2 separate regions of the Homo sapiens genome follow, and region 2 is linked to region 1. A link means that fine-mapping ties the variant in region 1 to the expression of a gene that starts in the linked region. Tissue or cell type: whole blood. Region 1 holds a variant in brackets; the other region holds the start of a gene. All regions are shown on one strand. Distances are from middle to middle.

Evidence for each region. PIP is the estimated chance that this variant, and not a neighbour inherited with it, causes the effect.
Region 2: LITATS1 starts here. The variant in region 1 is fine-mapped to the expression of LITATS1 in whole blood (TOPMed, PIP above 0.99).

The regions. Positions count from the first base shown.
Region 1 is chr1:37,535,071-37,540,886 of GRCh38, reverse strand. SNIP1 (Smad nuclear interacting protein 1) reads left to right here. Exons shown (of 4, transcript NM_024700.4): 3 at 132-730; 4 at 2,875-5,816. The coding sequence ends at 3,139. LOC105378649 (a long non-coding RNA gene) reads right to left here. Exons shown (of 3, transcript XR_947190.3): 3 at 2,151-2,198. Among named protein-coding and RNA genes, the nearest start is that of SNIP1, 16 kb to the left of the region's middle. RefSeq lists an enhancer at 1-1,196. The variant C/T (reference allele first, on the strand shown) is at 2,357.
Region 2 is chr1:37,471,356-37,477,171 of GRCh38, reverse strand. LITATS1 (lncRNA induced by TGF-beta and antagonizes TGF-beta signaling 1) reads left to right here and starts at 2,729. Exons shown (of 3, transcript NR_038842.1): 1 at 2,729-3,028. ZC3H12A (zinc finger CCCH-type containing 12A) reads right to left here and starts at 2,592. Exons shown (of 6, transcript NM_025079.3): 1 at 2,543-2,592; 2 at 1,233-1,713. The coding sequence starts at 1,675. RefSeq lists an enhancer at 1,648-1,747 and silencers at 2,398-2,857, 3,318-3,417.

The DNA.
Region 1 (5,816 bases):
GAAATGTTGTTCTAAATGCCAAAGTCCAAATTACAAGACTTTTTGCATGCACTTCGTTCAAAAAGAACAAGATTTGGGCTGCCTTTAGATTGTGCACTGCGTTTAAATTACAGAATCTGTTTGAATTTTAGGAGCGTGAGGATCATCCCCGGAGAGGACGGGAGGATCGGCAGCACAGGGAACCATCAGAACAGGAACACAGGAGAGCTAGGAACAGTGACCGGGACAGACACCGGGGCCATTCCCACCAAAGGAGAACGTCTAACGAGAGGCCTGGGAGTGGGCAGGGTCAGGGACGGGATCGAGACACTCAGAACCTGCAGGCTCAGGAAGAAGAGCGGGAGTTTTATAATGCCAGGCGACGGGAGCATCGCCAGAGGAATGACGTTGGTGGTGGCGGCAGTGAGTCTCAGGAGTTGGTTCCTCGGCCTGGTGGCAACAACAAAGAAAAAGAGGTGCCCGCTAAAGAAAAACCAAGCTTTGAACTTTCTGGGGCACTTCTTGAGGACACCAACACTTTCCGGGGTGTAGTCATTAAATATAGTGAGCCCCCAGAAGCACGTATCCCCAAAAAACGGTGGCGTCTCTACCCATTTAAAAATGATGAGGTGCTTCCAGTCATGTACATACATCGACAGAGTGCGTACCTACTGGGTCGACACCGCCGCATTGCAGACATTCCAATTGATCACCCGTCTTGTTCAAAGCAGCATGCGGTCTTTCAATATCGGTAAGTAACATGGAGGAAGAAACTGTAATGTGAGCAGAAACAATCACTCAGTTAGGATTACTAAGATTTTTGTTCATGTTTATGCAGAAGAATCCCATACCCCTCATATGTTATCTAAAGAGTATTGTTAATCTAACTGCCCTTTAAATAATTGCTTACATATTTATAAGAACATTAAACTTTTAATCTATTTTTTATTTTTTTGTGACAAGGTCTCACTCTGTCACCCAGTCTAGAGTGCAGTGGAGCAAACACAGCTCACTCCAGCGGCAACCTCCTGGGCTCAAATGATTGTCTCCTGCCTCGGCCTCCTGAGTAACTGGGACCACAGGCGTGTGCCTCTGTGCCCAGCTAATTTTGAAACTGGATCTTGATAGCTTGCATGGGACATCTGTGATGATTCTCACAACAATCCTGTGAGAAGGATAGGATAGATTTTTTGTTTTTTGAGACGGAGTCTCGTTCTGTGCCCAGGCTGGAGTGCAGTGGCGCGATCTCAACTCACTGCAACCTCTGCATCCCGGGTTCAAGTGATTCCCCTGCCTCAGCCTCCCGAGCAGCTGAGAGTACAGGCACACACCAGCACACCCAGCTAATTTTTGTATTTTTAGTAGAGACGGGGTTTCATTGTATTGGCCAGGCTGGTCTCGAACTCCTGACCTCGTGATCCGCCTGCCTTGGCCTTCCAAAGTGCTGAGATTACAGGTGTGAGCCACTGCGGCTGGCCCGTTTTGTTTGTTTGTTTTTTAACATGGTCTCCTGACTTCGAATGGACACGTATTTGTATCCCCATTTGACAGATGAGAAGACTGAAGCCCAGCAAAACCAAGTGACTTGCCTAACAAATGATCACTATAGTACAGTGGTCCCCAACCTTTTTGGCACCAAGGACCAGTTTCATGGAAGACAGTTTTTCCATGGAACCGGGGGAATTCGGGATAATTCAAGTGCATTACATTTATTGTGCACTTTATTTTCTAATACTATCACATTGTAATATATAATGTAATAATTATACAACTCACCATAATCTAGAATCAGTGGAAGCCCTGAGCTTGTTTTCCTCCAGCTTGATGGTCCCATCTGGGGGTGATGGGTGACAGTGACAGATCAGGCATTAGATTCTCGTAAGGAGCGCGCAACCTAGATCCCACCTGTGCACAGTTCACAATAGGGTTCATGCTCCTACGAGACTCTAATGCCACTGCTGATCTGACAGGAGGCGGAGCTCAGGCAATGATAATTCAAGTGATGGGGAGCAGCTGAAAATATAGATGAAGTTTGGCTCGCTTGCCTGCTTGCCCGCTGCTCACCTCTTGCTGTGTGGTCCGGTTCCTAACAGGCCACGGACTGGTACCAGTCCATGGCCCAGGAGCTGGGGACCCCTGCCATAGTAGAACTCTGGCTCAAATATAGCTCCCTTGACTCTGAAGTCCAAGTGCACTGTTTTTTCCCATTTGGACAGGAACTAAAATATATTGAAATATAGGTTAAAGAAACATTATGTTGATTATAAACAACAGAAAAAAATGTATTTTCTTAACCACAGCAAGAGACATTGGATTCTGCATTTCCACCTTTTGATCTACCATGGATTCTCCCCACCTTCCAGCAACTCATTCTCAC[C/T]TTTTTTTTTTTTTTTTTTTTTGAGACAGAGTCTCGCTCTGTTGCCCAGGCTGGAGTGCAGTGGCGTGATCTCGGCTCACTGCAACCTCTGCCTCCTGGGTTCACGCCATTCTCGTGCCTCAACCTCCCAAGTAGCTGGCTCCACAGGCGCCCGCCACCATACCTGCCTAATTTTTTTGTATTTTTAGTAGAGACGGGGTTTCACCATGTTAGCCAGGATGGTCTCCATCTCCTGACCTCGTGATCCGCCCGTCTCGGCCTCCCAAAGTGCTGGGATTACAGGCGTGAGCCACCGCGCCCGGTCCATTCTCACCTTTTCTAAGTATATTTAAACTTCCAATTTTCCTTCCCAGGGCCATGCTTTCCCCTTGATTTCTTTGATTCCCTAGAATTTTAACTTGAATTGTGCTCAAGCCAGGTTATTTACGTCATCTAGGCTATCTTAGCAAAGAGCTTTAGAGAAGCTGGATGATCTGAGGCAGAAGTTTGCTCACAGGTTTCTCCTTTTTTTCTGCTAGGCTTGTGGAATATACCCGTGCTGATGGCACAGTTGGCCGAAGAGTGAAGCCCTACATCATTGACCTTGGCTCAGGCAATGGAACCTTCTTAAACAACAAACGTATTGAGCCACAGAGATACTATGAACTAAAAGAAAAGGATGTACTCAAATTTGGATTCAGTAGCAGAGAATACGTCTTGCTCCATGAGTCGTCGGACACTTCTGAAATAGACAGGAAAGATGACGAGGATGAGGAGGAGGAGGAAGAAGTGTCTGACAGCTAGCAAACTAAGAACCCAAACTATTGATACACGGTTTCCTTCTTGGAAGTCTTTGATTGACTCAGAGAGCACTATGGTGGTGGGTCCAGCACTATGGTGCTCTCTGTAATGCCTCTTACTGCCTTAAGTCTTTCCTCTGTTGCTGACCAGATTGTGTTACCATTTGAATACACTGACTAATGTTTGTTAAACTTTTTCTGTGGCACCTTGGCCACATGCCTGCAGGCATTTGTTTTCAGAACAGTCTCACCAATTACAACACACCGTGTTTTAGTAGAAGTGTTGTGGTTTTAGTTGGTGCTTTCAGAACTGCTGCCTAGGAAACTATAAACCCTTGGTTAAGGGGAAATCATGGCTTGTTCTCTTTGTACAGTTACTTTATTTATATAGGTGTTAAGCTTTGTGGACCAGGTGTTTTTCTTTTGGGGCGAACCCCTGAGCAGAGAATCTTACTAGGCTTTGGTTATCACCAAAACAACCTCCAGTATATACCAAAGCTTTGACTTGTTTGAGCTCTTGAGCTTAGAAGTTGATTTTGCACTTATTTTTTTGGGGGGTGGGAATGTACTGCAGTCAGTAAACATTATTGACTGTTTAACTTAAACAGATGCTTTATGGCACCTGCTCAAGCCCGTGACTGTACAGAAGGATCCTGGTTGCTACCAGTGGGTGCTGATTCAGCATCACAAGTGACTGAAATTGGCTGTGGATCTGTTCTTTGTGAAAGAATTCCTGATTTCTCCATGGAGCATGTACACAACAATTTTGATCATATTAACTGTACTTCAGTTTTGCATTTTTATTCAAATGTTATCTCTTTTTTTCTTTGAGAAATAAACTGTCACTGATGTGACAGCGTTCTTTCTTTATTCTAATAACATGTATAGATCTAAAGCAGGTTGTGTTGTTTACATGTTTCTACACATTTCATCCTTTAAAAAGTTGTTGAGAGAGGTTGTATTTACCTTCCCAAGGTTGGAAAGCAGGGGAATTTCCCAGTGTCCTAGTTTTCCACCAGAGGAATATGTGTAAGTAGCAAAGTATTTGCTGCTTACATATAGTGTGTATGTATGTATATATGTAAATTGTGTGTTAAAGAGCTGATACTGATTTTCATATGACAATGTTAGGCAAAGGCCTCCCTGCATTTGAAGAGCAGGTTTTCATTTATATGTATTTTTGGGATAAAAAAATAAAATTTGTAAATATAGCCCCATTTCAAAGAGTAATGCTTTCCTAGCGTAGAGGACCTTGTGTTCATAGGTCTGTTTGCTGCTAATGGAGCCTTCTGTCAGTACTTTTGAGATAAAAGTAGGTAGCTGTTTTAGAGTGTTGTGGGGCAGGTTATATCGTTGGCCTCCAAGTCAGTGGAATAGCAGATGGTGACATGGAGGTGGGTTGTGGGGAAAGGTGGTGAAGCAGCTCAATCAGTGTTACTACTAATTGTTCCTCTTGGGTTGAGACTTAGGATACTATTAAATTTGATTGTTTTCCATTGTTTTTATACCCATGTGTGCTCAGGGCTAAAGATTGGCTAGTGGGAGGGGCAGCTGACTAATGTTCATTCAGAAGAAGTTAAAAGATCCTTTGAAAAGTGAACACTTAATAAGGTCATTAGATGAAACGTAAGTTGGGCCGGGCATGGGCACAGTGGCTCATGCCTGTAATCCCAACACTTTCGGAGGCTGAGGTGGGCAGATCATCTGAGGTCAGGAGTTCAAGACCAACCTGGCCAACATGGTGAAACCCCATCTCTACTAAAAATACAAAAATTAGCTGGGCGTGGTGGCACATGCCTGTTTTAATCCCAGCTACTCGGGAGGCTGAGGCAGGAGAATCGCTTGAACCCGGGAGGTGGAGGTTGCAGCGAGCTGAGATTGTGCCACTGCACTCCAGCCTGGGTGACAGCGAGACTCTGTCTCAGAAAAAAAAAAAAAAGGTAAGTTGAAGAATGTGTTCTACATTGGCCACTGTAACTGCTATTTTCTTCATTTTGGTATGTGCCATAGATCATATATATGTGCTTGTCTGAAAAGTAGGTTTGTTTGGATGAACTTTTCTCTTGATCCAGACTGACGGTTTTCTCTTGAGGGTTTAAGCACTAATCTGGTATCTTACTCTAGGATCTCCTTGTTCAGTCTGTGCTGCAGTAGCACTACTTTGTGGTAGCCTTGAGTTTTGCTACAAACTTCATCCTGGTGGGCACTGTGATAGATGACCACTTTGCCTACATTTTTCAGTAAGAAGTCCTAATTGTTTAGTCAGTTTTTATTTTAGTAGAGGAATAACGTCCTGGATTAAGAAATTCTTTATGCCACATATCTGAGAAGGTGGGTTTTTTTGTTGGTTTGTTTGTTTTGAGATGGCGTCTCACTCTGTCGCCCAGGCTGGAGTGCAGTGGCACCATCTTGGCTCACTGCAACCTCCGCCTCCCAGTTTCAAGCGATTCTCCTGCCTCAGCCTCCCAAGTAGCTGGGACTACAGGCACCTGTCACCAAGCCTGGCTAATTTATATATATAATTTTTATTTTTTATTTTTTTTTAGTAGAGATGGGGTTTCACCATATTGGCCAGGCTGGTCTCGAACTCCTGACCTTGTGATCCGCCCCTCTCAGCCTCCCAAAGTGCTGGGATTACAGGTGTTAGCCACCAGGCCTGGCCTGAGAAGGTGTTTTTTTTT
Region 2 (5,816 bases), 64 kb after region 1:
TCTAATCTCGAAGCATGGGCTGTGACCTGCTGCCTCTTGGCATGGAAACTGGATTTTCTCAGCCTCCCATCCAGGCTCAGCCCAAGTCAGAGAGAGGAAGACTGGCCTGAAGGTGACAGAAGGAGGGAAGAGCACTCAGCTGCATGCCTGCTGAGCTGGGCCAGGGCCAGCTGGACAGTGAACTTGTCCCACAGGGGCCACAAATTAGGGAGGGCAGAGGCTGATGTCATGCCAGCCTTGGGCAGCCCACCTAGGAGCTCCCTCAGGGCAGCCAGAAAATCATCCCTTCTCAACCCTGTGTCTGGGGTCTCCCCGTCCATGCCAACAGGAACTTTTCCCTGTGAGCCATCCACCCAGCACTGACTCATCAGCCTGCCTTGGAGGGAACTGGGAAAAAAGTGGGGCCAGAGGGTGGAGCCTGGATTGACGGGAGAAGTCTGGGTTTCCCAAGGTCAGCAGCAGCCCTGGCTTCCCTCTCTGCCCCTACCTCCCCACCCCATTCCTGTGCTGGGGGATGGGGGTGGGAGTCACTGGGGGCTGAGTCCTGGCTCTGGCCCCGGGGAACCTCCAGAGACTGGTCCAGCCCAGGCTGCTTCAGCTGAGTCAGTAGGGATCCAAGTTGCAGCTCGCCTGAGGCCAGAGCATCAGGCCACCTGCCCACAACCCATGTAAAGCTGGACCCAGCCTTGAGGTCACTCTTGGACACAGTCACTGGACCTGTTTTCGTGGGAGCCCAGGTCTGAGACAAGAAGGCCTCAGAAGCCCAGCCCCTGAAATAACAACAACAACTGCTACTACCACTGCCTACTACCACTACTATGGTTCCTGAACGCTTGCTCCTCTCCGGGATCCGCACACTCCCTCCTCACAACACCCACCTGAGATCAGGTTCCGAGGGGTGAGTGAGCAGCTGCCCACGGGCTGGTCCCCTTTACAGCCCTGCCTCACATTACAGGAGAGGAGTGGAGACACAGTGCTGGCCTCAGGGAGGGACCCACAGCATAAGGTAAGCTCTGCGGACAGAGGGACCTGGGCTGGAACCCTGCCTCTGTCACTTACCAGTAGCGCGACCCTAGCCTCATAAAAGGCTTTCCCTCCCTCTAGACCAGTCCCTAAGAAGGAAGTCACTTCTTCCAGCCCACCAGAGCTGCAGAGACAGTCATCCTTCCATGTGTCCTGGCCACAGGAGAGATGCGAACCTCATGTGTCCTGGCCACAGAAGTGACACTTACCTCATGGCCACGTTGCTCCCATCGATGACCACTGGTCTCAGGTCGCTGCCCTCCTTTTCCTCTTCTGGGAGTGGAGGCTCCAGGTTGGGAGCCTTAGGGGTGCCACCACCCCGCGGGACTAGAGGGAGCTGAGGGCAGGGGTCCGGTGAGGTCTGGCGCTCCCGCTCGGTGGCTGTCCCGTGTTTCACCAGCTCACCCAGCACCGTGTTGGTGTCTGCCTGGACGCCCAGCTTCTGCAGGACGCTGTGGATCTCCGTGGATGAATAGCCCAGCTTCCGGAAGAAGTCCACCTTCATCTGCAGTTCCAGGGCCGAGGCCTCCTCAGCGGCCAGCTCTTGACCCGGCCTTGGGGTGCCCTGACGGCTGTGGCTGTCCTCAAATTCCCACAGACTCATGGTGGGGCTGGCTTCCAGGACAGGCTTCTCTCCACAGGGGCCACTCATAGCTCAGACTCCTGGAAGGCCCCGCGCCACAGCTCCTACTGAACAACCAACAGGGTTAGGGACGGTGAATAGCGCTCTCTCCTAACCTCCCTCCCAAAACCACATCCAGCAGGATGAGGGATTGGTGGCACTACACACTGCATCGTGTTATTAGTTCAGGTTGTCCTCTCAAAAGCTCTCCCAGCTAGGCATTCCCATTCCCATTCTATAAAGGGAGAAACTGAGGCACAGACATTAAAAACGTGCTCAAGGTCATCCAGCTGTTAGCTGGTGGCTCGAAGATCGGAACTTAGTCTGAACTAAGACTGGAACTACCCCAGCTGTAAAGCCTCGAACCCCCACGCCAACCCAGGGGACCCAGAAGGCAGGGACGGGGCTCTCAGATGGAATCCTGGGGCTGGAAGTGCGTTGCGGGGCCCAAGGCTTCCCCACTGAGGCCACCACTTTCGCCCACCCGTCCGGCACTCAGAGCTCAGGCCCAGGCAGCGCAAGGCCCATGGCCGGACTCCCGGAGCCGGGGAGGGCAAGTTTCTGGGGTGACCCGTGGGGAGAAAAGTTGCTGGAAAACTTTGGTTGGCTGCCGGGAGCTGGTGACGCCGAGGCTGTCCCGGCCCGAGACCCGCGCTTGCTCGGCCCGCGATCCCGATCAGGAACCTGGTGCTCTTCCCCGGCTCTCCCAACTTGGGCAAAGTTGGAGGGGTCCTGAGGCCCGGCGGGCCGGGGAACAGGACCCCGACCCTTCCGTCCCCTCCCCTCTCCACCCCTCCCGTCCCCTCCCGTCCCCTCCCCTCGGCTCGGCTCGGACCCCGCCGGAGCGCTCCCTGCCGCTTCCCCGCCGAGGCCCGCACCCTCCCCGCCGCGCCTCACCCCGCCATGCGCCAGCGGCGGCCGGCGGCGTCTCCATGGGGCCGAGTCCTGGGGGTAAGGACGGCGGCGCCTTTATATGGGGCGGCGCGCGGGCAGGTGGTGGTGAGGCACTGACGCGGAAGCGGGCAAGGGGCGGGGCCGTCCCGGGAGACCGCCCCGGGGGCGGGGCTGCCTCGCCCCTTCCTGCTCCGCTCCTCGCGTCGCGGCCCCGCCCCCGCGGCCGCTGCGCGCCGGACGGGGCCCAAGCGGGGGTCGGAGCCTCAAGGCTGCGGCGGCGACGAGCTCCGAGCGGGACACTGAACGGCCCGTATGCGCAAGATAAGCACGGACTGAATCAGGTACACGCACCTGCCGGGGACGCACTGACCGAGGTGCGGACGGCGGTACCAGGACAGGTAAAGCCGCGAACACTCGGACCTAAGAACTTGACAGGTACACCCTGCCTGATGAAGCTACGTACGGCCAGGTGCGCATCGAGTGAATCAGGTACGCGGAGGTTGGTCCACGCACCTTGGAGGCAGGTCCATGGTTATAGACAGGTACATCCAGACAGGCACTTTTCAGATGGAGTCAGGCCCCCTCAAGACACACTGTGCTTAAAGCCGTCACACAGAGGTTGGCCACCCCCGGGGCCAGGTACACTTTTCCTGAAATCTGTACTTTACTAGGACCAAAAGGCAGGTTCAGTCAGCAGATGCACAATGACCGAGGCAGAAAACCAGGCAAAAGAGGGCCATTTACCCCAATCACCACATGAATACTGTCCACACAAGAATACTGTCACCCATACCGCAGAACTCACTGAGCGCCCCCACTGGAGGAGCACCCTTGCTCCATGAAGATGCTTTTAGTTTCCCAGGTCAGACCTGATCCCTCGCATGAGCACAGCACTTTACAGGCTTACACTCACGGGCTTACAGACAGAGGTCATTATGCTGATGTTACCCTTGAGAAATTCTGCAAAGGCTAAACTGCCCCAGCTGGAAAGACTCGAACCAGGATGGAGAGCTCCTATTCTAGTGCTCCTATTATTTGCCATTTTTGTGAACCACGAGTGACTGAGGGCAGAGGGGAGCCTGGCTTCCTATGTGTGTGTGTGTGTGTGCGTGCGTGTGTGTGAGTGAGAGAGAGAGAGAGAAAACACAGAGCCCACACGCTGGAGGACAGAGCCACATGCCACCAGTGCTTACTATGTGCCAGTCCTTTGTTACATTCTCTCTACCTCATCATAGGCATGTATCCTATAAGTGCTAGTGTTATAATAAATACTTGTTTATTGTAAAAGACACCATAGACACAACTGTACATGTACAGCTTAAAGAATAATAGTAATAATAAAAAAGCCATGTATCCATCACCTAACTTAAAAAATAGACCAGTGCCAGTACCTTGAGGCCCTCTGGGTGCCCCCATCACAGCCTCCTGCCCACATCCTGAAGAACTAGTTTCCTGAACTTTAATTGTGCTAGTCATTCTCTTGCTTTTTCTTGTAGTTTTACCACCTCTGTATGCATCCCTAAGTGGGATATTGTATAGTTTTGCTATTTTTTACTTTGTGTAAACGGAGTCATTCCATAATTATGTGACTTCCTTTTTCATACAGCATTATATTTTTAAAAATCCATTTTGATTGCCTGCATACCTGTAATTTATTTTACTACTGAATAGTGTCCCATTTTATGAATATACCACTGGTTACTTATTCAGTCACCTGCTGTTGGATGTTGTTTCTAGGATTTTTTTTCTATTACAAAGACTGTGCTTTGGATATTCTTGTATGTATCTTAATGAAATTGTACAGTGGAGGAAATGGATGTTCAGAGATTCAGAAAGGTGAAGTCACCTGCTCAGGCTCTGGGGGCTGGTGGAGCTGGAACTCATGTAGCTCTCTCCAAGGCAGTCCATCTCCCCATCCACACCTGCTTGTTCGGGAGGCCACCAAAGACCCCAGGGAGGCAGGCGTGTACGTCTCTATCTGGACCCTGAGGCTGTTCCTCTGGGCTTGCTTGCTCTTACCTAGCGGTGTTCCTGCTTTGTTGCCTGGTCATCTTTGAAGACCCCAAAGTGTCCCCTTCTCTGCTCCCCAGGCACAGCAGCTCCAGGGGCTTGGCAACCCAAGGAGAGAGGAAACACAAGGCCCCCTGCTGCATGCCAGCTCACATCCCATGCTGGGCACCTCACATGCTTGCTGTCACTCCAGCTGAGTGCGGTGCCGGCGGCACCCCTAACCTCACAACAGTCCCTTTTACAGATGAGAAGAGCTCAGTTATGTTAAGCATTTATTCGCTATAGCAACTACCTTTAAGATAGTAAAAACATTAAGTGATGTGTCCAGGTTAATAATGATAATGACAATACTAATCAATCATAGAGATAATGCCTCCCATTTATAGAGTGCTCACTGGGTGGCAGGCACCAGCTAGCGCCTTGCAGACACTTTCGGGCCTCTGCTCTGCTTCTTCCTTGGCTTGGAGTGCCCTTCCCTCTCTCCCACCCAGCTGCTTCCTAGCCAGTTCCATTCATCTTTTGGATGATGTCACCTCCTCTGTGAGGCCAGCCAAGACTCCTTTGATGCTGGTTGTACCCTCCTAAGTGTCCCCACAACACCCTGCCTATGTCCCAACGTGTTAGATTGTCTTTGCCAGCCTGAGACCTCCTCTGGAGCTGCAACAAGACCAGACTCTGCTCCTGCTCCCAGACCCTCTGCTGCCCAGCCCTGTGCCAGTAGGAGCCAGCAGGACTAGGCGATGAGTCATGCTGCTCCCTGCCCTCCCAGAGAGAGCCACAGTCTCGCTGTCTTCCGGCTCATGCTACTTCCCAAGAAGCCGACTCTCCTCTACAGAACCCACGGCTTCTTTGGGGAACCCCTGCTCCGTTTACAGCTGGATTTTGCAAACTTTGGCCCTAATCCCCAGGAGTTCTCTGAAGCCGAGCCCACACAAACCCCTCTGCCTCTCGTATGCCTGTCTTGGCAGCTGGGCTGGCTAATTTCCTTCTTGGAGCCTGCCTGGCCTCCCACCATCTATCTGCCTGTGCCCAGCCAGCGTAGGTGGGGTCTGCAAAGCTTGTGGACTGGTCACTGCCTGAGGGTGGTGGGGGGTTGGGAGATGAGGTTGGAGAGGGAAAGGTCCCAGGAATGACCTTGGCTTTCAGTTGCTTCACTGGGCAGCTCAGCCTGGGGAGGACCCGGGAACTGGGCTACCTCTGTAGAAAGGCTGGGCAGGCTGCCCTCAAGCCTTAAGGGAGTGGCTGCTGAGGTGATGTTTAAATTCAA